5 linked regions of the Homo sapiens genome follow. The protein of the gene in region 1 purifies or fractionates together with the protein of each later gene. This does not show direct contact. Each region holds a gene or a part of one and is shown on either strand. Other genes may lie near its edges.

What was found.
Region 2: the proteins of BCL11B (region 1) and CCNJ purify together in Homo sapiens (affinity purification with mass spectrometry; one large-scale study listed by BioGRID and IntAct). This does not show direct contact.
Region 3: the proteins of BCL11B (region 1) and ARID5B purify together in Homo sapiens (affinity purification with mass spectrometry; one large-scale study listed by BioGRID and IntAct). This does not show direct contact.
Region 4: the proteins of BCL11B (region 1) and TAL1 purify together in Homo sapiens (co-immunoprecipitation; one study listed by IntAct). This does not show direct contact.
Region 5: the proteins of BCL11B (region 1) and TCF7 purify together in Homo sapiens (affinity purification with mass spectrometry; one large-scale study listed by BioGRID and IntAct). This does not show direct contact.

What each region holds. Positions count from the first base shown.
Region 1 is NC_000014.9:99,260,710-99,266,598, forward strand, and holds part of BCL11B (B-cell lymphoma/leukemia 11B), read right to left. Parts: intron 1-5,889. UniProt on the Homo sapiens protein: Key regulator of both differentiation and survival of T-lymphocytes during thymocyte development in mammals.
Region 2 is NC_000010.11:96,041,053-96,047,567, reverse strand, and holds the start of CCNJ (cyclin-J), read right to left. Parts: upstream 3,986-6,515; 5' UTR 3,849-3,985; exon of another isoform or gene 3,319-3,848; coding exon of another isoform or gene 3,175-3,318; coding exon 3,106-3,174; intron 1-3,105.
Region 3 is NC_000010.11:61,900,439-61,904,498, reverse strand, and holds the start of ARID5B (AT-rich interactive domain-containing protein 5B), read right to left. Parts: upstream 2,801-4,060; 5' UTR 2,790-2,800; coding exon 2,769-2,789; intron 2,341-2,768; coding exon 2,086-2,340; intron 1-2,085. UniProt on the Homo sapiens protein: Transcription coactivator that binds to the 5'-AATA[CT]-3' core sequence and plays a key role in adipogenesis and liver development.
Region 4 is NC_000001.11:47,214,761-47,220,367, forward strand, and holds the end of TAL1 (T-cell acute lymphocytic leukemia protein 1), read right to left. Parts: intron 5,415-5,607; coding exon 4,960-5,414; 3' UTR 1,531-4,959; downstream 1-1,530. UniProt on the Homo sapiens protein: Implicated in the genesis of hemopoietic malignancies. It may play an important role in hemopoietic differentiation. Serves as a positive regulator of erythroid differentiation.
Region 5 is NC_000005.10:134,116,348-134,122,236, forward strand, and holds part of TCF7 (transcription factor 7), read left to right. Parts: intron 1-5,889. UniProt on the Homo sapiens protein: Transcriptional activator involved in T-cell lymphocyte differentiation. Necessary for the survival of CD4(+) CD8(+) immature thymocytes. Isoforms lacking the N-terminal CTNNB1 binding domain cannot fulfill this role.

The sequences.
Region 1 (5,889 bases):
CCTTTTCACTTTCCTCATGCAGCAGCCCTGCGAGCCCCCGTAATTGAGTTTGAAGGTGTCCAAAGCCGTTTGCTGTGCTGCAGCTCTGATTTCTGCGTCAAGTCCTAACAGCCAACCAACCTGGGAGCCAGGCCCTGTTGGCGTCCCCGAGACAGCCCCGGGATTATCCAGGCCTCCAGGGCTCAGTTCTGAGCTGGGATCTCCACGTCCCAGACCAGAGATCCAACTCACTGCCTCTAAGGGAGTCTGGGAGGAAAAGAAACAAACAAAAAATATCTCCTTCCCCTCCCACTTTCAGCGTTGAAAGTTAAACCCCTGAGATGACAGGGTGTTCACCCGATTCCAAAGAACGGGGTTTCCTCTCCCCACCACCCAGGCTGTGGCGCTGTGCCTTGGCCTGCTGTGTGCGACACTTCCCAGGAAGGTAGCAAGGTCACCCTCAACATCAGGCAGCAGAGTCACCCCCAGCCCCAAATTTCTGGGTCAGAGTAAGTGGACCAAGTGGGCCTGAAAGCTCACGTTCAAGGCCTTTGTAGACACCCCCAAAGACTGTGGTTTCACTTCCGCTGGCAGGCAGATACCAAGCTAGGCGTGTAGGGTGCCTGCATATGTGTGCATGTGTCCCTCCTTAGAACTGTATCGATAATGGAAGAAATAAAAGGAGAAAGCCAAGCCCTGGGAAGGGCAAAGTGACACCCCTCTTTCTCTGCCCTATGGACACCTGAGTCTCCCGGCTCTGCACAGCCTCAGAGAGCCAGGCCTCTGTTCTAACAGGCAGAGTGGTCCAACCTGCCACCCAGAGACGAAAAAGCACCAGGAAAAAGACCAATGAAAACAGTCTTTCAAATTCCCAGACCCTACAGGCCAGCCCCTCATGCAGCCTTGTCCAGCAAACTCGGGCCTTAAAAAAATAAAGCCAAGATGAGGTTTTCCTCTGAGATGATCTCTGCTTTCATGAAAAGCTCCCCAAGTGTCGGGCAGCCCTGCAGAATATTGCTGCTCTCAATATATTATGAGCCGAATAAAGTAGAGCAATTGCTGAAATGTTTGACTCATTAAGAGGAAAAATGAATGGATGCAGCAGACAACTTGTTCGAAAGGCAGATATCAGAGGGCTGAGGCGGATTCTGAAATGCTAAATCCTAAAGTGCAGGGACAAATCTGTATTTACACACACACACACACAAACACACGAGTTAGATTTTCTTTTACAACAAAACCACATTTTATTTACAAGGCCAGGCCTCCTCCCAGCTGGTAAATGCATTTAGAAGCAATCACAAATAATAATGGACATCGTTGTTAAGTGAAAGGGGAAGCACTTGATCCCAAGACAAACTTCCCCATGCCTCGGCTTTGCTGGGAAGGAATTTGAGTCAGAAGAAAGAAATGGAAAGACATCGTTAACACAGGCCCAGCCAAGCAGCCAACAAGCCCCCAGCAGCTGCAAGCTTTCAGCAGGGCCTTACCTGGCCAGTGACTCCCCCACACACAGGGTGCCAAGGACCCCGCCCTCCCTGGCCCATCTCTAACAACTGCCCATGCACCTGCCCTTAGGGGAACTCCAGCCGAGAGGTCTGCTGCCTGCTGTCCCCAGAGCACAGGCATGTGCGTGGCTGCCTGCACACACACATGTGCATTGCTACATACACAGTACGTGGGCTGCTGCTCCTCCTTACCCTGCATTAATTCAAATCCAACTCTCTTATCTTTAATGGCTAAGCTACAGTCCAGGAGAAACATACACAGAATTATTGTTTCAGTGATGACGGGGGTGGGAAAGGGAAGGATGTGGGGGGATGGGTCCCAGGCTCTTAAAATCGTGTGCCACCAACGTCACAACCGCCATCATGATGTGTACGCATGTTTACAAGAAATGTTCAGCATCCATCCGCCCGAGCTCTGCATCCGACTGGAGACTTTACACCTGCTTCCTACGAAGAGGGAGCTCTTGCCAGCGAGCCCATGCTTACCCATAATCTACGAAGAGATCTTTTCATCTCCTCTCCGTGAACACTTGGGGAGGGGCTGGGACTCCAGGCGACACGGAAACGCCACCACACGCACACTCGACGGAGCACAACACTTTCTGAGCTGCCATCCATTTTTAATTTATTGGATCCAAGAGAAAATAACAACCGTAGGGAGGGGGGAGGAGAAGGGTGGAGGGGGAGAGAGCAGGAATCAATTCTTGGTGGAGAAAATAATCTATGACTAGATGACGCTTAAAGGCACGACAAGAGATTTTATGAAGTTCCCCTAACGGAGGGAATAATGAAGTGCCTGGCAGAGAAGGAAATGGAGATAAGAGGGAGGCTGGTGTCAGGAGGATGTCCACAGGGGGTCTCGAAGGGTTATTAGGACACAAGTTGGGGGTGGGGACCCTGGGAAGGCACAGCCAGGCGGAGTCTGAAGCAGGAAGCAAGACCCAGATCACACCTCTCTGTCCTGACCCTCGACCCTCTCAGCAGACAGTCAGAGGAGTCCAGCCTGCTCCAGGTCAGCTCTGCACCCTCCTGACACCCTCCAAAGGCTGCCTCCCTGGAGGGACAGATACATACCACAGCCACCACCCCATGAGGTCCTGTCTGCCCCTCCTCAGCTGAGGCACACACCTCGATCGCCGTTTCTGACATGTGAGAGGGAGAGCAAGGGAAGGCGGCCGGTGCAAAACATGCTTCCCAGTGTGGGCTTCCCAGGAAAATGACCAGGGTCCCGCTGACTCCGCCAGCAGCGGAAACTTTGGGCCTGGCCTGCAGGCCAGGAGGTGGAAACTCCAGATCCGTGAAGAGGTTTTAGATGCAGGAAGAGGCTCACTCCCATACCTTCTGGTCTACAGACTCCAGGCGGGAAAGTCGAATGTTTGGGGAGGGTCTCCCTGTGTACAGATTGTTTGCAGGACTCCAGCCTAATTTTAGGATGCTTAAGCAGCTCCCTGAAAAATATCCTCAGTTGCTCTATGGAGTCCAACCGCCTTCTCTCCCCCACTGCACACACCTCTCCAGAACCCCAAAAACTGAGCCCAGGAGTCTGGGTCTCCCCAGCACAAGAGCAGAAAAAAGAATAATGCACACACCTCTCCAGAACCCCAAAAACTGAGCCCAGGAGCCTGGGTCTCCCCAGCACAAGAGCAGAAAAAAGAACAAGTGAATAAGGAAAACATACTCAGGTATATTCACAGGTCTCAGCCATTACTAAAAGGTTACAAATAAAAGTCTTGACAAATAAAATAGGCGCTTTAAAGAAAAAGAAAAGGAAAAGATTTACCACAATAGCAATCCTTCTCAACACATTTAGCAGGTTCTATAAAACTGCAAATGCCTTCAATCTTCAGAGCCACAACGGGCTCCTAACGATGTGATAAAAAAGCACTCTTTGTGGGCAAATGAAGAGATTTGTTTTTATTTAACATTATGCTTTTTTCAAAGGTGCGGAAGAAAAGAAGGGCTTCCACACAGGACACTGGACCTCAAGGCTTTAGCTGGAGGAGTTTGGATTATCTGAGGCCAACAGCAAATAGCAAGGGCAGGAGTGCTTTCGACATCTCTTTTCCAAGGTAGGAATTTAAACATGACACCGCCCCCCCCCTTTTTTTTAATTCTTAGCAGTGCATCCATTTCTGAGGCACATGTTAATCACAATAATATTGGCACTCAACTTTTCTTGAGTCATTTCTGCGTGTTGTTTTAGTAGAAAACTCATTAGAACATTTCACAAATGTATTTATTTGTATTTCAATAAAATAAGTGGAAGGGGGCCATAAAAAAGAAGTTATGTAAAAGAGAGGATTTTTTTTTTCTTTTTTTACTTTGAAGTGACTTAATTTTGTGTGGTCTGGGATTTCATTACAGTAAAATAGCTCAGGCTGGCTATTCAACACCCAAGCAAATTATCAGCTGCCACAAGAAAAAGAAAAAAGAATGAATTTCTTGATTTTCAGCAACTGCACAAAAGACTAGCATATGTCAAAATGCTGGACCAACATCCCGTGAATGTGGCACCATTCATCAAGCCTCCATCTAGTGTCACTTTTGCCAGCAAAAAACAAGGCTGCTCTGCTCACCCTCCTCACTGGCTTGTGCAGAAGACGCAAGAAATGTGTCCTTCTCTTTCCACGCGTCTCCAAATAGCCTGCTCTCGGCACTTTTTACCCACGCCCTGGGAAACATACTTGCTCAAGGGAGGCAGTCAGCACACGGCGTTTCTTGGGGAGGGATGGAGCAAGAGGGGGACCGAGCCTGAGCACATCTCCCTGACATTTGGCTCCCTGGGACCGGAAGGAAGCTGAGTGGGATCAGGGAGTAGGGACAGGACAGAGCACACAGGACCTCAGGCCAAATGGCCTGAGTCAAAAGAGTGCCGCACAGGACCTCAGGCCAAATGGCCTGAGTCAAAAGAGTGCCGCAAAGTGACAAAGCATACTCACGGCAGCTGGATGACACAGACATTCATTCCTAGTGTCTTCTGTACCCTTCCCCATTAATAAATACAAAAGTGTATCTACAGCTAACACCGTCTTCAGAGAAAGATGCTCAGCCGGTATCAATAACTCAACCATGTGGTGCAGGGTACAGTCCCCAAAGACCATTTACTTTCTCCTTGTCCTCCCCAGATGTGAAGCCAACATTAACCTCGAGGCCAAAGTCTTTGGAGAGTTTCAGCTAAAGGTGAGGCCTAACCAGGCAGCCAGAAGGTCCATCCTTAAGCCATGGGAGATGAAGGAGAGTCTCCAACGGACAAGAACCTGACCCCCTCCCATTCCCTCCCCCATATATTTTTTCCTGCATTGTCTTATCTATGATCTGTGTTTAGTTACAGCTTGTGAAACTCCCCTGAGTTCTAAGGCAAAGGATTGGAGATTGCTAAACTGATTTTTAACGGTTTTCTGCAGCTCAGAGACCACCGTCCGGCCCAAGACTTCGAGGTCACCGTGCCTCTTCATCTCTGAGTGGTCCAGTGAGCTCGCTGCCACTACATGCTTACAACTGGCTCGATTCAAACATTAAATGAAGTAGAGAAATCATCAGATAAATTGCTGGCCCTGTGTACTGGAGAGTGAAGGCTCTTTCTCCAGCTGACGACAGCGCTAGGCTTTTGTCTGACCTAATTTATTTCTCTTTCAGGTTAGAATAAAGCACTCTTTCCTGTCGCAGGGTAACCTCTTCTGCTCATATATTGAACTCTAGCATAAGACTCAGGGTGCAGTCTGCAGATTTCTTCAACTTGGGAAAGAAGACATTATAAATCTAGAAATCCTATGATCAAAAGCACATATATTCCCCATCACTAGATTACATGTTTAGGGGAGAAATCCTCTCATTAAAAGCCATCCATAAAGGACAACTGTTTGGGGTGAAAGATGTGATCAAGACTGGCTCTAGCAATCACATACTCTTTCCAAACAAAGTTTTACATGTTATTTGAGTCGGCATTTTAAATCTTTGGGGAACGGTGCTATTTCCCTTAGTTCAGTGGGAACATTACCTAATAAATGGAATTGAGAATCCAAGTGTCATAAAATTTGAGCTAAAAGGATTTCCATTCATCAAGCTGTTTTAGGTACACGACTCCCAAAAGCAGCAACTCTCGACTGTTCCCTGGGTCTGTGACATGCAAGACAGAAATGAGCAGTACGCCTTCCCCAGACCTCCCCAGCCCGATCACCAGCGCCTTAATAACGCAGCAGAATTTTCAGAACGTCAAGACCACGGACGAATCAGGGAAAACACACCCATTCAAAACTCACAATTTTAATTGTTAAAAAAGAAAGAAAGAAAATCAAAGAAAAAGAAAATGCCCCCATCTGCCAAGTGAGGGCTTGTAAATCAATGGCGATAGCTTGAAAATAGATTTCTCAAACTTATATTCTCATTTTGTCCTGCACGAATC
Region 2 (6,515 bases), on another chromosome or scaffold:
CTCCCAGGCTCAAGCAATCCAACCACCTCAACCTCTGGAGTAGCTGGGACTACAAGCGCTCACTGCCACGCCCAGTTAGTTTCTGTACAACAGGGTCTCGCTATGTTGCCCAGGCTGGTCTCCAGCTCATGGACTCAAGTGATCCACCTGCTTTCAGCCTCCCAAAGTGTTGAGATTACAGGTGTGAGCCACCATGCCTGGCCAAAAAAATTTTTTTTTTCCACATAAAGGGAAGATGCCGATTTCTCATGTAGTTCCTAGGATTTTTCTTTTCTCCTTAACTCTTTCTTTGGATCTTTACAATGGTGTAAGTGAGTTGCAACTTTACCTTTGCTGCCACCATGTGACATTTATTGAGCATCTCCCATGCAGCAGACACTATACTAACCCAGGCATAAAAGCTGGAAAAACAGTCTCAAGCCTATCTCTAGCAGGTGAATCAAATACAGAGCTTATCACACAATATAGTCACCACAGGTTATTATGGCAACACCTAGGAAGAAAATCTAACTTAGCTCAGGGATTAGGGAGTTGGGGAAAAAAGGCAAAACCAGAGCAGGTTTTCCCAAAAAGTGGCCTGAACATGGTCTTAAAGACTCCCTGGAAACACCTGGAAAACACTGATGGACTTCACTTTCTTAATGTTTCTCACAAAGCTAGAATTGTTCCCATTTGTCATTAAGGCTCCTAAAAACACTTTCCCAAACAGCCTATGACACTAACTATACACAGCAAAATAATGAGAAGAAAGGAGACAAAAGGGTGTAAGGTGACAGCTGCTTTGTAGGGGTTTTTTGAGGGAGTGGATAGTTGGCATGATTTCCATTCATTGTCATTTTCACTCTTCCCTAGTAAACACAATGCTAGTCACACCAAATATTTCTCCACAAACCTAGGGCCTAAACATAGAATACCTTCTGCAGTATCTCAATGGCAACTGCCCAAAGGAAGACCTAAATGTGGATGCTCTAAATTATAGATAAGGTTAGACTATGAAGGCAAGGATCATGTCTCGTTCACTGTTATTGCTCTAACACCTGGCATGATATCATGTATGTCATAAATGATCAACATGTTGAAGAAAAACAGATGACTATCCGACTGAATCACCAATTAATAGCCTGGAATTACCACGTCTTTTCTAGGAGAAAAGTCCATTTTAAGTTTCCTTCAGTGTATTACAAACAGTGGTCTCTCCAGTTCCACAAGTTTAAGTTTTACAGATTAATGTAAATTCTTGTATAAAGTGTTGCCAGTAAGAACCATGGTTTGCATAATGCTTAAACATAAAGACAACCCAGGGCAGTAGGCCATAGGTGGCCCAATAAAACTTTCAGTGGCATTCCTTCACACCCTGTGCTACCTTGTCCTCTGATAGTTCATAAGCAACTTGAGTGAGTATAAGGTTGGGTCTTATGCCTTGGATGCTCCAGAAACTAATCCACAAAAGCCTTCAACAAATCTAAATCTAGGAGAAAAAACAAAAAAACAAAGAACCCATGTCCAAACTCAATTGACAAAATGCAGATAATCACTCACGAATTAAAATGATCTACACATAAAATGATTGAAAAGTATGGAAATCACCAAGAAAAACCTTTTAAGTTTCATGCCAATTAAAAAATATACTCTTGGCTGGGCGCAGTGGCTCATGCCTGTAATCCCAGCACTTTAGGAGGCCGAGGCAGGTGGATCACCTGAGGTCAGGTGAAACTCCAACTCAAAAAAAAAGTACTCTTAATATCAACTAATTAATTTCACTACATACCAGAGGGATAAAAAGGCTGACACTTAAAACACTTTTCAAAATATGTGCAACTATATTAATTTTTTTAAAAAAGAAAACATTTCACATTGAAAGATGACATCTGCCAAAAAAAAAAAAGATCAAAAGTGTATCTGGACAATTTTCCAAGAAACTGCAACTCTTTCCTAACTAACACTCCAGAGATCCCATTAGTTAGAATTTTTATGTGGTATAAACCATCTCCTAGGGGGCTGAACTGTATTTTAGTGAATCTAAGAGACTGAATGTCAGAATTAGTTAAGTAGCATTTAGAAATCTCAGGCCTAGAAAAGGGTAACAATTTAAGTCAGAATTAGGTTTTCCAATCTACTTGACCTGGTCAGAAACTCAAGATAAAAGTTCATTATCATTCCAGGATCTCAACCCCAAGAGTCAGAATCCTTTTTATTGAAAGTCAGCTGTTTTGCTTCTTTCTCAATTTTCTACATTTAACAAATGGCTTTCTTTATCCAAGGTGAAACTGAGTTAAGCTAGAGATCATTTTGGATCTGGTCTCTCTTTTGGTTATCGAAGAGGCAGAAATGTCTCATTAATCTGCCTTGCCACATGCAGAGTAAAACCGTTACTTAATAGCAACAATACACAGACTTTGCTTTGTGTTGGAAAAGTATTTTTTTCCAATATCTATTAAGTCTACTTTCTGCCTTTGATATCAGCAGGAAGGGGCAGCCAACTCCCTCCACTTTAGGGCTTTTGAACAGCCCAAATCCTGAGGGGTAAGTGATAAGAAGTTATCACTTAGTGCTTACTATATACCAAGAGCAGTTTCTAAGCACATGTACGGTACTAACTTAAGTTTCACAATCGCCAGAATCATAAGGCACACTCATTATTCCTCATTTTACAGATGAGGAAATCAAGAAACAGAAATTTCACTTGTCCACGTCTCACGGCAAGTTAGCGGAAAGGCTGAGGAATTTATGTACAAAAGCGACTTAAACTGGCTGCATGCAACGGCAACTCTCGAACAAAGAGGGCTGTTCTGCCCAACAAAAATTCAGTGTATATATCTTTTAAAATACAAGATCAAATTCATGACCCACCTGGAAGCCAGAACGCCCCTTTCCACCTTCCCTGGCCCAACTACCATCTCCCTACTCATTCAGGTTGCAGGTTCTTTTGATACATCCCAGAGAAGGAGCCAAGAAGTTAATTAACCTTGAGCAAATGAGCAAACTCGCCTTTTCTGGCCCGGAAGATAGTGAGTAAAGAACCTGACTAGACCTTCTAGAGAGCCGAGATTCAGAACAACTGGCGCGACACACAGAAGGAGAAGGCAGGCCGGGCCTCGGAGTTACCTTGTAGCGAAGCGCTTGGTGAATATCGGCGGCCAGCTGTCCTCGCCACCACTGCCCCTCCAGCTCCATGGGACCCGGCGGCGCGCCCAGCCCGACGCGGCAACTCGAGTCTGTAAGACACACCCCAGGCGCGGTCACTGCCGGCTCCCCCGCGACCCTCTGCGCCCCCTCCCCGGGGGGTGTGACCTCAGGCCACCCGGTGTGGCTGCTCATCTTCACTTGACTCTTCCTCAACCCAGCCCGACCCGAGTCGTTTCCCCCAACGCCACACGCGAAGCCGGGTCTGCCCCCGCAGGAAGAGCCGAAGGACTCTGAGACTCACTGCTCGACTATGTGTCGGGCAAAAGGGGATCCACTCGGGCCCTGAGTTGCCAAAGCGCGGAGCCAGGTGCGAGCTCGGGAAGAGCTGGGGGAGGCCCGGCTGGGGCTCCCTGCGTCCGGGGCTGGAGTTCTCCCGCCCTCCCTGAGGAGCGGGGAGAGGTGACACGCTCATAGCCCCGCTGAGGGGAAACGCTCCCATGGCAAAGCCCGGGGGTGAGCGTCTGCCTGGCCGCGGGTCTCCGCATGGACGTCGGGAGCCTGCTCCTCCCCGGGAGCCCCGAGAAACGCACGTTCCGCGCGGCCTCAGAAAGGGGAACAAAAGGCCGGGCCAGCCAGGCTCTGCGCCTCACCCCGGGAGGGTCCGCTGCCCCACGCCTACCCCAGGCCTGCCGGGCCGCCCGGCCCCACGCTGGCTCCCTTACCCGGAACCGCGGCCCTCACAGCCCCAGCCCCGCCGTCGTGCGGCGGACGCCGGCCCCGCTCATGCTGCGGACAGTGGGCCGCTAAGCGCCGGCCTCAGCTAGAGCCCAGCGCCTGGACGCTCGCGCCGCCCATTGTTAAAGGACCGGCAGGCGGCTCCGCATACAAAGCCAGCGCGGGGGCACTTGAGGCCCCGCCGCTGCCAATCTCGTCTCGCGATACAGCGGGGTCGCCCCGAGCCGTCCAATTGGCGGCCGGGCCGGGCCCAGGTGCAGCGCCAGGCGGCGGCGCGGCGGCTCCCGCCTGGGTACGGTCAGCATCCCGCACGGCGCGGCGTGGCCTGGGCTGGCCTGGCGCTTCGGTTGCCGGGGCGCTCAGCCGCCACCTACTGCGAAGCCGGCCTGATCGCCGGCTGAGGTCGGCAGAGAGCGCCGGAGAAATTGTAAGGTGGATCACTGCAGTGACCAATCCAGTTAGGCCACTCACCTGCTGAGAACCTTCGATGGCTCCTCGATGCCCGCGGAGCAAAGTTCCGACGCCTCAGTTTGGCGTTTAAAAGTCTTCACGGCATGGATTCGGTTTACCTTACTTCACGTTGCACCAACCGCTTCCATCCCAGGGGCTGCTCCGTGGATCATCAGGCCCTCCAAATGTGCTTTAGCTGTTTCTGCAGCCCCTGAAGCGTTTTTTTTTTCCTGTGAAATTATGCTCTTTTTTTAAGTTCCACCTCAAACTCCACCTTTCTTCTAGAAACCTAATTAATCTCTTCCCCCTCCTTATTTTCGTTGCTGTAGGGATTCCCAAGAGCTTTGAATGAAGACATTTAAGATTACTTCTAGTAACCTTGCTTGTCAAACCCATGGTGGATGTAATTAACCATCTGTGCTCGTAAATCAGGAAACTGCAAAACTGTGAGAACACTCCGACGTCAATTGAGGTGATATGGGGGCTGAAATGTGATTAGAGGAAACCTAATCAATTGTATTTTAACCTCTTTGGTGGATTATCACAAAAGAGGTGGATGGTAACCCTAGGACAGTGAGACTGTCCACTTTTCTGAGACTGGAGATCAATCTCTTAATAGTAAAACGTAAATATTTTTAAAACTTCACCCCTTTTACTTTGAATCCTTTGTCCAAAAAGATACATGATGATAAAGAACTACTACAAAGTGATAAATACATTTTATGTGATTCTGGGTGGCATCTTCATTTGAAGATCATCAGCAGACATGTATATGAGCCGTACCCTATCCATAGACGATGCTTATACCCAGGAGAGCAGGCCCGCAGGAACCAAAGGCAAGAAAAGGGAAACTCAGAAGCTGAAGTTGGCAGATCCCGGCCTAACCCGACATAGTCCAGGGAGAAGGCTGCCCTGGCCTGTCTCTCAGTTGCAGGGTCCTCTAGAGTGAAGGTAGACACATCAGGCTAAAAGCTTCATGCCATTTTTAATGGCATTTAAATAGTGTCTACATCCTTGGGTTCCATTTCATGACTATTAAACAACTTTATAATAATTTGGCTTCTAAATAACTGTCCAGGGCCTATTTAAGAACACTTTCAGAAAAATGGGGCACAGACTATAATCATTAGTATAAGAAGTAGACTGTATTTATCGCTTCTACTTTGAAAATATTGTTCACTGGGATATATTTGTTCAGAAATCATTATTGTTTTCTGGACTTGCCTTGTGATGAGAAGACTTCAATGTCCATTTCCTTTTATGGATTAATGTTCATTTTACACATATATTTTGCCATAGTGTGTCTTAGATAGTAAATCCTTAAAATGCAAAGTTCAAACTTACTATGATTTATTTAATTCCTTTAGAGCAAGGTGGACACAGTTAAGGTATTTACTTAACTCCTAAAGTCTCTGCTCTCATAGAGTTTTTATTCCACTAGAAATAGAGATACAATGAACAACAACAAAAAAACATATCACATGGTGACAAGTGATGTGAAGAAAAATAAACAGAAAAAAAGGCTAGAAAGTGACCATGGGTGGGCTGGGTGTGGTGGCTCATGCCTGTAATCCCATCACTTTGGGAGGCTGAGGCCAGCAGATTACCTAAGGTCGAGAGTTCGAGAACAGCCTGGCCAACATGGTGAAACCCCGTATCTACTAAAAATACAAAAATTAGCCAGGTGTGGTGGTGGGCGCCTATAATCCCAGCTACTCGGTAGGCTGAGGCAGAAGAATTGCTTGAGCCCGGGAGGCGGTGGTTGCAGTGAGCCGAGATCGCGCCACTATACTCCAGCCTGGGTGACAGAGCCAGACTGTGTCTCGGAAAAAAAAAAAAAAAAAAGAAATGGGTGGACTTTGTTTCATGATAAGGTAAGGCATGCAAAGGCCTGAGGGAAGTGAGAGAGTAGGTACGTATCAGGTGGCTGAGCATTCCAGGCCGAGGGAATTGGTACACGCAAAGACTCTAAAGTGAAGGCATGTTTGGAATGAAAATAGAGGCCACTGTATGTCTGGAGTGAAGAGGAGATAGGAAAGACGTTCTAAGTCAAGGAAGCACTGATCACCAATGGTATGAAAGAATGGAAGTAAAAAAGGCAGAACATCTATATAAAGGGCAGAATAGGGAAACTGCAGAGTCCTTTGTGACTGCAGCATAAGGCACAGGTAGATTTGACAAGAGATGAGGTGGGACCAGATTCT
Region 3 (4,060 bases), on another chromosome or scaffold:
CCCTTTCAATTCCCCATAATGAACAATTAAAAAGAAATCGTGTATTTAAAAATATATCTATTCACTGTCAACACTTCTAGCAGATGCAACGTTTGGCAAATATAGCCTTTATTCTTAAATCAGAATTCACCATTTAATTACACCAACAAAAATTAAAACTGTACCAAGTGGGGTCAACTCAGGGTCTTTAAAAAACATCCCAATTTCAATTCCCCGCCCCCCAAAAAAGAGTGACCACAAAATATCCCATAAAACACTGAATAATTTCCTCCTGGACTTAGTCAGAAGTCTGTTAAGCACCAGTTCTTTTCTGGATATTTAATCCTTCCCTTTTCCAGATCACAGGCCATGTTGAAGTAATAAATTTGAAAAGCAAATAATAAGAAATCAGGAGGGGGAGAGGGAGGGGGAGGAAGACAGCTGCGCAGGAAAGTTGGGTCGGGGGAGGGGGCCGAGCCAGACCTTGGGAGGGGGAAAGAGCTCAACCTGTTGGTAGGTTGCAGGATTTTTCACAGTATTTCCAAACAACACCTTTTTAAAATTGCAGGCGGACGTCGGGAAATATGAACATTTAAAAACCAAAGCTGGCCGGGGAGGGTGGAGGGGGGAGGTGAGCGGGGAGGTGGGAGGGGCTTATTTCCGAAAAGGCAGATTCGAGGGCGAACGTTTCGACGAACTCCAGTAATTAACCGGCATAGACCACTGACGAGTAATTCGATCCTGGGGAGAGGGAGTGAACTAGCAATGCCAAAAGTACTATCAACTCGATCAAACCGAGGAATTCTGGAAGGACTGGCAGCTCCGAGCCCCGGGATGAGTTAAACGGGAAACCATTCATTTAACAAAAAGATCCTTAGATCCTTACACCTACCTCGAAAGCTCGAGAGCCTGGCACAGCACTAGCTGCCCTCAAAAGTCTGTTTGATTACCCTGCTCTCGCTTTGGCAACACAAAGCCTCGCCAGGCGGCAGTGCGCCCTCCCTCCCCGCTGCGCCGTGGGCACAGACTCCCCAAAATAGTTCCCCTCGGTAGGTACCACGGCGCTGAGGTCGGTCAGCTGAGGAGGGGAGCCCGCAGAACTGCGGTCACACATGAAATGACAGAGCCGAAGGGAGGCGGCCGCCCCGGCGCCCAGTGACAGCGGGCTCACCTCCGGCGTCCTCCCGGGAGCGCGGCGAGCGCCCCCGCGGCCGCCCAGAAACGTGCCGGGGAGGCTCTGTCCCCTCCCCGCCCTCCCCGGGAGCGCCGTCTGGGCACGGAGAACGCTGGACCCGCAGGGCCAGTGGGCGAGCACACACCCCTCTGCCCTCCCCTCCCCCGCCCCCGTCCCACACACCCCCAAAGATCGCGCAGGAGGACGTCCACTTTGCGTGGAGTAATTGCAAACTAGAACATCAAATGGCTTGTCCGGGGGGAGGGGGAGTGGGCGAGAGATAGTTGTTAATGCTTAACGTGTTTGTGCCTGTTACACCACCGCTTTGAAATCCGCCCGGGCAGATCTGCAAGTTATTTGAATGTATTATTCCAGTACCTGTCATTTATCACTTTATTCAACACGTCTTTGCCAACTCAATAGCTTTTGATCTCATTCTGCCTCCATTTCGTAATTTCCGCCCTCTTAAACATATCAAATACTTACTTTGAAAAAAGAACAATATCGAAACCCACCGAAAGAAATCCACCCAGACACGACCGAGCCAGACACGAAGGTAAATTTTCAAAAGGCAAAAAATATAAAAAGCATGTGATGTTCAAGAGGCAATAGCAGGAGAGCAAATGAACACACACACACACATACACACACACACACACACACACACACACATCCTTGAACAAAACCCTTCTCGAACAAGTTATTTGATCTTGACTAAAATCAGCAGTTGGATCCTCTTTGTAAAGCTGACAGCCAAACTCTGACAATGGCAAAATACTCGAGCCCCAGCTAGTGGCGCTACCCCTTTAAAAAAGGAGTCGATCCTGCTTGCCTGCAGAAGTGAATACAGTATTTTCAAGCTTGCCCTGTAATAAGCATTACTAGGGGGAAAAATAATAAAGAAAGAAGAGGGGGACAGACAGGTTTACCACCTCGCCATGGTCGCTATTTCTGCCCTGGGGAGTGTCTTCTGGGAGGAAATAAAGTTTAGAGCTGGATAAAAGTTGCCGGCTGGTCCTCTCTTCCCACAACAGCTGGAGCTCCGCTATGCAAATCGGATCCTTTGGCGTACATCTTACAAAGAAAAAGTCGCCAAGGGACAAAATTCTTGGTTTGCCTTCAAGGTGGAATTGAAAAGCCTTGTAGAAAATGTAAGGTCCGTGCAAGCCACACGGTGAGCCGACCCACTGCAGGGGGGGAAAAAAACACCAAATAAATAATGTAGCCATCAGAGCACAAACATCTATTCCCAGACACATTTACACACAGACATCCACTCTCTTAATACAGACGACCCAACAGATATAACGCTGGGTGGAAAAATAATAGCACCCACAAATTTTCTGCTTCCCTAAAAAAAAAAAAAAAAAAACTCAGGGCCCCCCACCGCCACTTCTACCCACCTCCCCATTTGAGGCGGTAAAATTACATTATGTATGTATGATCAGTGCAGGGATTTTTTTAAACAATAAAAATGATTTTGGGGGATGCAGAGGGTAAAAGTTTGGTGAAAAGTTTGTGGGGGGTGTGGGTGGGTGCAGAGGTGTGGGTGAGCTGGGGGGTTGGGGGGTGCCGGGGGGTGCCGGGATCGGAGGAGCGGAGGAGAGCGAAATACCTGGAGTGAGTTGGGCTCCATCTCGACGTTCTGAATTGATTGAACTCAACATTCTCTCCAAACTTGTTGGCTTGAATGGATTGCATCAGGTCCTGGCAGGGAAACGCATTCTCTGCCTTCAGCCGGCGTAATGTCTCAATATAAAACTGAGCTCTTGCCTCCCTTCGGGCACCGAAATGATTGAAAATATGTCCTAATATTTCTATAACGACTCAATTTTCAGCTCCTGAAAAAACTATGTGGGTTTTCTTCCAAAGATGGATTGATCAAATTCATAATCGAGAGAAAGGCGCCATACGATCTCGGCGGGAAGAGGATGGATCAAGGCAAAAAACACACAAGAAGATTTGTAAAAATAAAAAGCACCCTAAAACTGTGTGGAGATGTGATTCCTCTCTCTCTAACCGCTCCTGTCTGGGATATCGTCTGATGAGATTTTTGGAGGAGAGGAGGGGTAGCGAGCTCCACTGTGCATCTGACAGGACCTGCTTGTATATGTCTAATATAAAGAACATTTCCTGCAGAGATTCCGGGGCGCTGCTCCTCTTTCTAATGCTTCTTAGCAGATTTGCTGTTATTAGACATGTAGATTTGTTTGATAGTTAAATTACGCTTCCTCACTGCCATGTTTTCGAGAACTAATCTGTTAAATTATCTTTTGATGCCTATTTACATGGAAGGGAAAAGTGGGTTATCGATTATATAAACATATAAATATTAATGCATTTGTTCGCTTCGCAAAAAAATACTCAGCAAAAAAAAAAGAGACAAGTGAGCAGTGCACACACATCTTAGGATTTCGCAAACAATATTGAACGGACAGCGACTGCATTTAGGGACTGGAACAATAAACGATGCATGATAAATCAATAAATGCGAGAAGCGAGTCTGCTCAGAATATGAATTCAGGCTCCCGGTTCTGCGTGTGCATTCTTTAATTTTGAAGTATATACACTAGTACGTGTTTACAATGCTGATGGACGCCAAGGGCGCTCTCAAATGATAATGTGTTTATATAACCCAGCGCTACAGGAATAATATACCGACTCCTACCCCACCCCCATCCCCTCCCCCGCCAAAAAAGGGAGGGGAGCTTCCTCAATAATAGTTTGAAACTGAAAAAATCCATTTGCAAACTAGTTAAATACAACCAGAAATTAAGCTGTTGAAAACCGGGGGCATGAACCGTAAGACAATAAAGGCTTTAAATGTGTATATTTATTGTTCTGGAGCCCTGGAGCATTGCGAGGTTTGCATGCACGGCTATTATGCAAACACAGAGAAACTTAAGA
Region 4 (5,607 bases), on another chromosome or scaffold:
TGTTTTTCTCCTTCCTCTCTGATTGCTCTTTCTCATTTCTCTCCCTCAAGCCCTTAACCACAGGTCCCTTCCTCATACTGCTCCTCTCACCTGTGAGCACAGACCAGGCCAACACCACCACTGCTGAGATCCACAGCCAGCTCACCCCACGGCTAAATCTCACCATCCTATCATCCCAGGTACCTCCTTGTCCTGTGCCAGGGAGAGGCACACCTGGGAGCTTCCAAAAACCAAGGAGCTTCTCTACAGGGCAGAGCATGGTCCCCAAGGACTACCCTGCCTCTGCCCTCCTATCTGTGGTTGGAAGCACCCTGAGGACAAGAGCAGCCAAGTCAGAGCCTAGCAAGATGAACAAGGCTCACCCCAAAAAAGCCAGAGTTATCTGTGAGGTCCTTGAACTCACCTCTTGGCACAACTTTTTTCTTAATACTAATCACTTTGTAACTTACTACAGAATCAACATATTTATTACAGTTGTGTGTGTCTGTGTGTTTACCGTCTCCCCTGCTAGAAGTTAAGCTCCACCAGAACAAGAACAGGGATCTTTGTTTTATTCAGTGTGGGATCCCCGGTACGTAGAACAATACCAGGCCCATACTAGATGCTCAATAAATATTTGTTAAATGAAACAGGGTGCCAGTTCCACATGCTGTAGTCCTAACTACTCAAGGGACTGAGACAAAAACCTTCTGGTTTTTGCACCTTTTGTTTCTTTTTCACCTTGATGGCCCTTGAACTCCTGAGCTCAGTTCAAGATCAGCCTGGGCAAAGGCTAGAAGAAGCAAGATCCCATATCTTGAAAAAATATATAAATAAATGAAAGAAAGAAAGGAAGGCATGATACTTCATTAGAAGTGCCTGCATGACCTACTGAAATCCCTGAGGATCAAATGGTCCACATGCAGTGGCTTCCCCCAGACCCAGGTGCTGTGCCCTTTGTTTTATTTTTGGAAAAGAATAAGGGTTGTATCATCTAAACCACATTTCCATTCCTGAGCCTCCAGGGAAGTCCTCCCAGATGATATGGAGCCTGCCACAGAGCCTCCACTCTCGACTTCCATTACCTTCAGACTTCATCTCTGAGTCCCCAATCCTTAAGAGCCAGGCATAAGAGCTGCAGCCGCCGCTGCAGCCGTTGAGTCATCAGGGAACCTGGGGCCCTCCTATGGTATGGCCTTAATCTGTCCTGAACCTAGGATACATACAACTGTCCCAGCCATGGAAGCTCACCCCAACACAAAGAGGGGATGTCTGCTGAGGCTTCCTGAGATACAAGCATGGGTGCATGAAGCCAAGGGGACAGGCCCCCTCTATGAGGCCTGTGGAGAGAAAGAATGGAAACCCTGGGGAGGAAGGCTGTCTCCTCCCCACCAGGCCTGCCTTCAGGGTTGAGGGTGGAATCCCACTTCCTAAGACTACAGCTGAGTCTTGGAGGCTCCCCATGTCAGGAGAAACAGGTTCTTGCCATGACTTTTCTTTCAATATCCCGTCTCAGGCCTAGGGGTGCAATGCAAGCACAGAGTCCTAAGGCCCCTTTGTAAAACTTTTATTTAGAAATCTTCCCGATACATCCTCACATATATATACACATCATCACCACATGGGTTTTTTTTGCTAAAGAGTCACACACCCACAGTGTTGGCCTCTGGGCTGTACAAAGGTCAAGGTACCTGGAGCGGTTACTCCTCTTCTGCAGAAAAATGCAGAGACCAACGCAATTCATCACATACAGTACAACGTTGACGGAAAGTGCTGGGCCCGCCCACAGAAACAATGCACTATGTACACGGGCAGGGGGCAAGTCTTCAGCAGAGGGTCACGTACCATCGAAATCACAAGTACGGCCAGACCCACCCCCAAAAGGCCGAAATAGTTGTCGGCTGACTACAGATGCTGTGCCCTTTGTTTTATTTTGGAAAAGAATAAAGGTTGTACCATCTTGTCATCTGCCATAACAAATAAAAGAATATGAATTTGTCTTAAAAGATGTGATTCCCTTCAGTGGTTATGGTCATCTTTGTTCTCAAAATGTTGTTTTGTTTTGTTTTACCTTTATGTTCTTTCCCCTTTGTACAGATGCTATTCTTGGAATGTTGCCAGTTTTTCATGGGTAACAAGGAAGGAGAGGAAGGATAAGGTCATGGGGTACAGAGGGTGAAAATAAAAATTACAGATCTTCTTTAGTTCTTACAAAGACCTAAAGACTTGCCCTTTCCTACCAGGCTTGTTTTGGGTAGTTGCATTACATTTTACACAGTCTGCCAGTGTTCCCATATCTCTTTTCCATTCTTATTACTGTCCCTGGCCTTGGAACAAGATAGAAATTAAGACAATCTGGGCTGGGTGCAATGGCTGACACCTGTGATCCCAGTGCTTCTGGAGGCAAAGGCAGGAGAATTGCCTGAAGCCAGGACTTCAAGACCAGCCTGGGCAATATAGCAAGACTCCATCTCTACCAAAAAAAAAAAAAAGTAAAAATTAGCCAGGTGTGGTGGCTCACACCTGTGGTCCTCCCTACTCGGGAGGCTGAGGTGAGAGGATTGCTTGAGCCCAGAGTTCAAGGCTGCAGACAGCAATGATGGCACCACTGTACTCCAGCCTGAGTGACAGAACAAGACACCGTCTCTCACACACACACACACACACACACAAATAGATAATCTGGAGAAATGAGGACAATCTCAATAACTCAGGCCAAAGCGGTTTACAATCTAAATTACCCAAATGCTGGGCAGTCAGGCACACCGGCCTACTGCCTAGGTCGTGGACTCAGGCTGCGAAACCCCACTGCAGGATTGAGATTGAGGGAAAAGAAAAAGTTCTTTACGTTCTCAAAACTGTCTACTTTCATGATCCCATTCAGTCCACACCATAGCCCTAGGAGATAGGCCAAGCCAGAGTCACATGGCAAGTCTGAAAGAAGAGGGAGCCAGAAGTTTGAGTTCTTAATAAAATATGTGATCCATCTCATAAAACCCATCCACCCATCCATACTGTGGCTACTTCTCATTCCTAACTCAAGCGAATCCACGGTGAAGCAAACAGCCTTAGATCCTACAGCAATGACTCTATCTTTAGACAGATGGGGCTCCTCACAGGATCTTCCAAACGTTGGAAAGGAACCAACCCTAATTTTCACCAAAACATGATCTGGGGAGCCTGAAATTGAATGGAGAGCCTGAGTGCTACAAAGGTGAACAATGTTGCCCCAAGCTCGAGAATTGGACCTTACTTAAAAGGAAGGGGAAAGGAGCAGACATATTCTCTGTCTGTACATGGCTGAATTAGGGCCCCATCATGGTGAGGACAAGCCACTAGGCTGAAGCCCAAACTATAAGGGGGGGCTTTCCAGACAGCCACAGTGATGAGTTCTTGCATGGCAGGACAGGGCCACAGGCTATCTCTCCTCTGACCTCGAAGGCAGAGCCTAGAGGGAGAGGGCTAGGGTGACTTAAGGGTACAATGACAGACATACAGGACTTCTGTGCAATTTGTCCCATGGGCTTAGATGCAGGTCACAGACAGGCCTCACCTTAAGAAAACCACATCCCACCATCTGGATTGACACAGGAAATCAATGAAGGGGCAGTGGTTCATTCTACAAAAGGATTCTTCACTTTACAAAAGGACTTGCAGTGGTTATTTCTTTAAAAGATGAAGGATAAGGATGTGATTTACAAAAATTTCATGTACAACTTTCAGAGGGGAGCACTTCTATTGCATTAAACCAACCTCCCAGACGCACCCTTGATGACCAAAAGCTGCACAACTGAGGGGTGTTTAAGGTTCTGCTAAGTGAATGTGCATATGTTTGGGTCTTAGCCAGGGCCTGGTCTCTGATTGGATTTCCCATACCCTAGAAGTGAGGCTGGATCCTGGTCCTATTGAGCGCTAAAGATTCCACCAATAACTGAAGTCAAGCAAAAATTCCAAATGCAAAGCATTCATAGGACAGGTTTTGTGCTCAATTCGGAACATAGACCAGACCATCAGCAAACAGACATCTTACAGCAAAGAAATCCCTCTAAGCATCCAGGAGAATGCACAGATGGGGCTGCGCATCTACTCAGCACCAGCGTACGCCCATCAGCACACTGGCATTCACTCGCCAGCATGAACAGTGATGTCGAGGAGTTGAAGCCCACATGCCCAAAATATCTCTTGCTCCATATCACTCTACTATCATTGTCCCTTTCTCTGCCTTCACACAAAGCCCGACAGGGCTTTCTCAGGGCTGCAGACATTGTCTCCACAGCCACAGGCTTAGGAAGGCAAGTCTCATTGGGGAGAAAGCAGAACTTTGATCCCCAGGGCAAGAAGTAAGGGCGACTGGGTTTCCTGACCCTCCGGCCCAGCTCATCTAGAGCAGACTGTCCACTGATCATCTTCTTCAACCAGGCCCTGAAGAAGGCACCTCGAGGCTTGTGACTCTGCAGCATCTGGCAAGCTGGATGGATCAACATAGGCCTGGGTGAAGATGGGGCTCACGAAATGGGCAGCTATTGGGTACCTATAAATATGGACAGAAGTGGCCACACAGGCCACCCCAGCCAGCTTGGGAGGGGCTAAAGGCAAGGCAGAGACTGCTGGATGCCTCAGATGAGAGCTGACAACCCCAGGTCTTAGGAAAGACAGGGATCCCAAACTCCAGGCCAAAAGCAGTGACAACTCCAGCCTCTTACTTGGGAAGGATTTGGGACTGAGGGAAGAGGGAAGACCGTGCCGTCTTCACAAAAAGTACCTACCACTTTGCTCCATTTTTCTGATCTCCTACTGGTACAGGAAACAGAAAAGCCAGCCCCAGGGTCAGTAAAGGCTTCCCAAAGTTCAGACATCCAGGAAAGTTCAAGTCCACCGCCTTGCTTCAGAGCCGCCCAATTCTCACCCCACCTGCCCTGAAGCCCACCATCCCAGCAGCCTAAGAACGCCCTCCTGGCTGATCCTGGTGGCCCAGACCCATCACCGAGGGCCGGCTCCATCGGCGGCAGGCAGCATGGCAGGATGGAGGCTGCGGGCCGTGTGCTTGGGCGCGGGCTCCTCCGTGTAGCTGTCCGGGCTGGCTGCCCCATCCAGGGAGCTGCCGCAGCTGGAGTTGGGGGAAAGCACGTCTTGCAGGAGGTCATCTGGGGGCGCGCCGCCCCCTCCCCCACCTCCACCCCCACCAGCCCCCACCACAGGGTCCTTGCCAGTCTTGGCCCGCTGGGTGCCCTCCTCCTCCTGGTCATTGAGCAGCTTGGCCAAGAAGTTGATATACTTCATGGCCAGGCGGAGGATCTCATTCTTGCTGAGCTTCTTGTCCGGGGGATGTGTGGGGATCAGCTTGCGGAGCTCGGCAAAGGCCCCGTTCACATTCTGCTGCCGCCATCGCTCCCGGCTGTTGGTGAAGATACGCCGCACAACTTTGGTGTGGGGACCTGGAGATTAGGAGGACAAGAGTTAGGAGAATGGGCTTGAGATTCCTTCCCCAAAGGCATCTCCATACATTGGGAAACTTGGGAAGCCTAGAATGCCTACTTTCCTTTTACTTAGAAAACATCCACCCTTCAAATTCAAGTTCCTGTGCTTCCTCATCTATGGGAACTTCCTCAACCCCTCCAGACAGATGTA
Region 5 (5,889 bases), on another chromosome or scaffold:
GACCACCCTTGCTCCTCGCTGCTCTGATCTGAGCTCAGAGCTTTGCAATTAACTTTCTAACTAGCCCAGGAAACCCTGAGCCTCCTTGGCGCTTGGAGGAATGGGCAGGAAAGCTGATCTGTTCAGGTCCCCTGGTTGTGCAGGAGAAACGTGCTGTGTTCGGTCGGCTGTGTCCTGACGGGCGTGAGTGTACCGTTGCCAAAGAAGGACCCTGAACACCATGTGTGGAAAGTGGGTTCTTAGGAAACTGGCTTGGTCTCAGACATACCAGGAAGGGTTGGCAAAGGTGCTACAAATCAGTGATGTTGAGAAGGGACCAGTTTAATTAATTCGTGAATTAAATATTTTTAAGTCCCAGTGCTTTGAAAAGATTTCATGATCTTTACAAACCATGCCCATTGGTACAGATGACCTAAAGTGTGAAGAGCCTATTCTGAGTGTTTTGGAGCAGTACAGCTGCGCTTTTAAAGAAATTCCTATTCGTGTTTCACACTCTCCTCAGTTGGTCCAAGTTGGGGTGAAGGTACGTGGAAGGTTTGGAGGACTGTGGTAAGTGAGTGTTGGGTGTGAATGTAAGCCCAGTGCAGGTGGGGCTGGCAGGCTGGAGGCTCGCATGGCTACAGTGGGGTCACCAGAGGGAGGAGAGTTAAGTGCTAGGCTATTTCAGACCAGGAGTGAAGAGGGTGGTTCTGAGAGCTGCTGCATGCCAAGCCAGTGGGAATGAGAAGACATATAGGCTTCTTTCCAGAAGCCTAGGCTGGAAAGCCTATTCTATGGCTAGCTCTAGAAATGAGCTCCTTGCCCTTTGGGCCCTTATCTGTAAAATGAGTATGTTTTTCGAGTAGTCTCTGTATCCGACTTTCTGCTCTGGGGTGGCTTGGTATATGAGGTGGTTCACTTCCTTCCAAGTCTGTGAGATGGGGGGTGTGCCCCCCAGCATTCCCCCGCTGATGTAGTGACTACATCCAGAGAACTCACCCTGTGTGAGCCCATGCTTAACAAAGATGCGTTTTGGATCCCTACAAGATGTAAATAAACCCTTAGATTTGGGACTAGGTTGACATAACCCACCAGTGCCAAACTTCCAACAGGTGTGCCACTTGCATAGGGGCTGGGGTCACCGTGGAACCATGATTAGACAAAAGGCCTAGGCCCAAGGCTCTACTCCAGCCTCCCGGGGCTCCACAGCAGCACAGGGAAAAGGCTTCCTTTCGGAGGTCATCTCATGGTGTGGGCAAGTGCTGGGAGAGTATCTGGAGCAGGGAGGGCTTCGTTCTGCTGTCAGGGTATGGGTGATGGGACCATTTGGTGTCCTTTGGGCCACATGGGTCAAGAGTAGGCTCTAACAGGACAGTGGAGGAGGCACACCACCACTGGCCTGGGTCATTTATTTTTCACCTTTCAGTCTTTCTCAAGCTACAGCAGATACATTTCTATGTATCGCACCTGCTCCTATAGGTACAAATCCCCTTGCCCTCCTCCCCGCGCAGCCACAGTCTCCACTGTCTGGCTTCTGGCCACACAGGAGGAGGAAAAGGACGGGCTGTGACACTGGCTCTCTGTGCCCTGGCCTCAGCTGCTCTGTGGGGCTGCAGAAAAGGACAGAGGCAGAGGTGTAAGTTGGAGTGACACTCAGTGAGGAAGCTGTATGTGAATGTAGGAGAACCTCTTTTAAGCAAACCTGCCAGTTATAAACACATAGCAAGTCAGAGCATTTGCTTGCATTACCTGAAGACGTGTGGGCATTGAAAATGTGGTTGGGTTTTACCAAGCAAAGTGAATCCACCCCCACATTTTAGAAGCATATTTATTATTGGATTCAAGGTTCATGTGTCTGGAACCAGGAATGATCTTCTTTTCTTGGGTCAGGAGCCCCTTGCAAGGGCCCTGAGGAAAAACTGCCTTTGGAAGATTTTTCCAAAGCTGGTCACTTTCCCAAGCCCATCTTTAAAGGACAGACAGCTTGCTGCTCAGGCCCTGCCACAGGCCTTAGATCCAGGCCCCCTTGCCCTTTGCCCGGCCCTCTCTGAGGGCACCTATGTGGTCAACACTTATGCTGAGAGGCTTGAGGCCAGTCATTGCACCTCCCTCAAGAGCAGGGAAAGCCTATACCAGGGACCTGCTCTGCCCATGTGTGGGTAGGATGCCCATGTGGCTACTGTGTTAGAGACCTCAAAACAGGCCAGCTCGAACCTTGCCCGGAGCAATAGGCTGAATGACCACCCCACAGCCAACTGCCACGGGACACATTTTTTTTTTTCTTCCAAAAAGGTTCCTTCTTTTTGGTAGTTGGCTTCTTTTAAGCTTGTTTGAGGAAGAAAAAATTAGGTCAAAGTTTATTCCATGAACACTGTCAGGCACCTGATTGATGTAGGCTTGCAGGCAGTTACTGGCCTAGACCAGTAACCAGGGTTTTTTTGTTTTGTTTTGTGTTTGTGTTTGTGTTTTTTTAGAGACAAGGTCTCACTCTGTTGCCCAGGCTGGAGTGCAGTGGTGTGATCTTGGCTCACTGCAGCCTCAAACTCCTGGGCTCAAGCCATCCTCCCACCTCAGCCTTCTGAGTAGCTGGGACTACAGGTATGCACTACAATGCCCGGCTAAGTTTGTTTTTGTTTCTGTAGCAATGGGTCTCACTGTGTTGCCTGGACTTTGGTTTGGTTTTCTCTGCTCTGCTCTGAGACCTGAAAGTAGGTGGAGGTGGTGAGTGGGGAGATAGTGAGCTGATCTTAGGCTGTACTTTGGGGGGATTCTGGGATGGGTAAGGCATCATTCCTTAGGCAAACTCAGGCTCAAACTCAGTGTAGTCAGTCTTGTCATATCCAAAATTGATATGAGGCTGCATTGAGCTGTGGCTTCTTCTATGAGCTCTACTTGGAGTCTGTAGCTTAGACAGATGCCGAGCCTTTTGCCATTTTGATGAAATATCCAGAATAGACACATCCATAGAGACAGAAAGAGGATTAGTGCTTGCCAGGGGCTGACGGAAGAGGGGCCCAGGGAGCGACTGCTAATGGGTATGGAGATACTTTCTGGGGTGATGAATAGGTTCTGGAATTAGATCGTGGTGGCAGCTGCACAATCTTATGAATATACTAAAAGCCACTGAATTACATAACCTTTAAAACAGTGTATTTTATGATATGTGAATTACATCTCAAATTAAATAAAAAGGCTGAGGCCTTTGGCTGTTGCAGACTTGGGGCCATGTGTCCCTGTCCCTGATCTCCACAGTTGTCCAGGTGCCTGGGGATGCCCCAAGCCAGGGGGTCAGGCATCAGGTGTCAGGTCCAGCAGAAGGAGCCTCACTGAGGCAGTGGACTCATGTTGGGGCTCCCGGCAGGTCCAGAGCGTGCCTGGGGGAGCAGGAGGTGAGGGTATGAGCAAGGCTCCAGCAGAGGAAGGAAGTGCTGCTGATGCACGGCCAGCCTGTCCGAGGAGCTTTGCAGAGATGCATAGGTGCAGGAGCACCCACCGGCCTCCACACGCCCCAGAGCGAGCTGTGGGCCTTGCTGGGAAGCGTCAGTTATTGGTGTTGAGCACCAGCCCTGGTTGCAGTGAAGCCTGTTAGGAGGGAATTTGGCACCAAGCTTGGTACCAGGTACTGGGCCCCCAGACTGGAACCAGGCTCTACCCCGGGAGTGCCCAGCTGAGCCGAGGAGACAGATAGAGACCTGAAGCAGAGCTGGCGAGAGGAGCGCTGTCACTGAGGTGTCCCGGGCAGAGCCGGCCCCAGCCCTGGCTGTGAAGGGGGGCCCACTGAGGAGCACTCTGAAGGCCACAGGGTGTCCAACAGATGAAGACAGAGGAGGGACTGGCAGGCCCCAGGCTTCCCTCTGAACACATCCCAAACCTCCCCACTACTCTGCAGTCAGCACCCAAAGCCCCAGTCATCGCCATCTCTCACCCAGACAGCAGCAACAGCGTCCAGGGGACCCCTCCCTCACCCCTAACCCCCATCCTAAATCACAGTCCAGGCTTCACGTAGCAGCCACAGGGGGCCTTTAAAAACAGAGTCAGATCACATCTCTCACCTGATGAGACCCCGCATCAGCTTCCCATTGCTCTTGCAGTGAAGTCGAAGCCACTCATCACAGCCGAGTGCCTGGGTGGCCCCCGCCAGCCGCCCCTCATCACCTGCACCAGCCTCTTGCTGTCTCCCTGACAGCAGTCCCCTCCCTGTCCTAGGGGGTCTTACAGCCAGCAACTTCTTTCCACCCCAGGACTCTTGCACTGCTTCCCTCCGCTCGGAAGTCTCTTCCCCAGCCCTGCACATAGCCGCCACCTTCTCGTTCCTCACTCAGGGCTCAATTCAGATGTCTCTGCCTCAGGGAGCCTCCTCTGACCATTCCCAGTAGGACCCTCCTCATCCCTTGGCTCCAGCTGCCTTGCCAGCCCTGGCAACTCTTCGGGCTCAAACGGTTGGCACTGCTTTACAATGCACTCACCATGCTTAACCCTAAGAAAGGCCGGCTGTTCGTTTCCTCCTCTGCACAATGGGAGTGGTGAGCCCTCCTCCCAGATTTGGAGTGAGGACCAGCAGCAGTGCCAGGGAGGGGCCCAGGGAGGTGCCAGTGCGGCCTGGCCAGGGGGAGTCAGCCATGACTGAACCCTTGTCCCTTGCTGGCCTGGCTCCCCTGGGGCCAGTGGTTGCTCAGTTGTGGGCCCCACGTGGACTTGGGCACGGAGGGGTCTGGAGGTCTGAACCCTGGGACTGGGGACTCAGGTGTACAGGCCGCCTACTTACTGCCCTGCCTGACCCAGGATTCTTAGGAGGGGAAAGTGCTATCCCTGGGGCCAGGCAGGGAGCCACAGCCACTCACTGCATTCTCAGAATTCTATCCTACCACCCCAAAGATTGACCTGAAAGAGACTCCCCTTCCTCAGTCATGTAGAAGTCCTTTACATGAGATGTTAGAAGCTTAAGCTGTTTTGTTTCAAAAAAAAAAAAAAGATTGGCTGGGTGCGGTGGCTCATGCCTGTAATCCCAGCGCTTTGGGAGGCCAAGGTGGGTGGATCATTTGAGGTTAGGAGTTCAAGACCAGCCTGGCCAACACGGTAAAACCGGGTCTCTACTAAAAATACAAAAATTAGCCGGGCATGGTGGCACACGCCTGTAATCCCAGCTACTCTACTCAGGAGGCTGAGGCAGGAGAATCGCTTGAACCCGGGAGGTGGAGGTTGCAGTGAACCAAGATTGCGCCACTGCACTCCAGCCTGGGCAACAGAACCAGACTCCTCAAAAAAAAAAAAAAAAATGCAAAAAACCCTCATGGCCATCAGCCTGGGAAGCCGTGGCCACCCTGTGCGTGCCCCTCATTCTTGCCACGATGCCACAGGTGTGGGCAGCCTCCTTGCTTGCAGCCTCCCCTGTGGCTCTGGCTTGCTCCCGGGCTGCCTTCTTTCCCAGTGTGAATGATGTTCTGTACACATCACTCTTTCGTTTCCACCTTGACTATTTTCCTGAAGCATAATACCCAAACAGAATTATGGGGTCAAGAGGCAGGAAGAGTCGAGGCGTTTTGCTTCCCTGGTGCCCCAGTGCGCTGTAGGTTCTGAGCTGTGAGTGTCCCATGCTTACAGTGGCTCAGCACAGCTGATATGGAGTTCTGCCTTTGTTGCTCTGCATTGAATAGGTTTGTGGTGGGCAGTGCGACTGTGAGCTATTTTGAATTACCTTTCTTTCCTTGGAAGGCTGCGTAGTATTGGCTATCACATTTGGAAAATCTGCAGCCTCTTTTCTGCTGCTTCCAAGGTGGGACTTTGAGGGTGGCTCCCTCAAAGCCTTGATGCCTTTCAAAACCAGGAGAGCACCATGAAGGGGGCCGATCCTGCAGACCCCTGGTTAGAGCCAGGCTTCCTGCCCCACCCTGTCCTGGGGTCAGGGAGGGA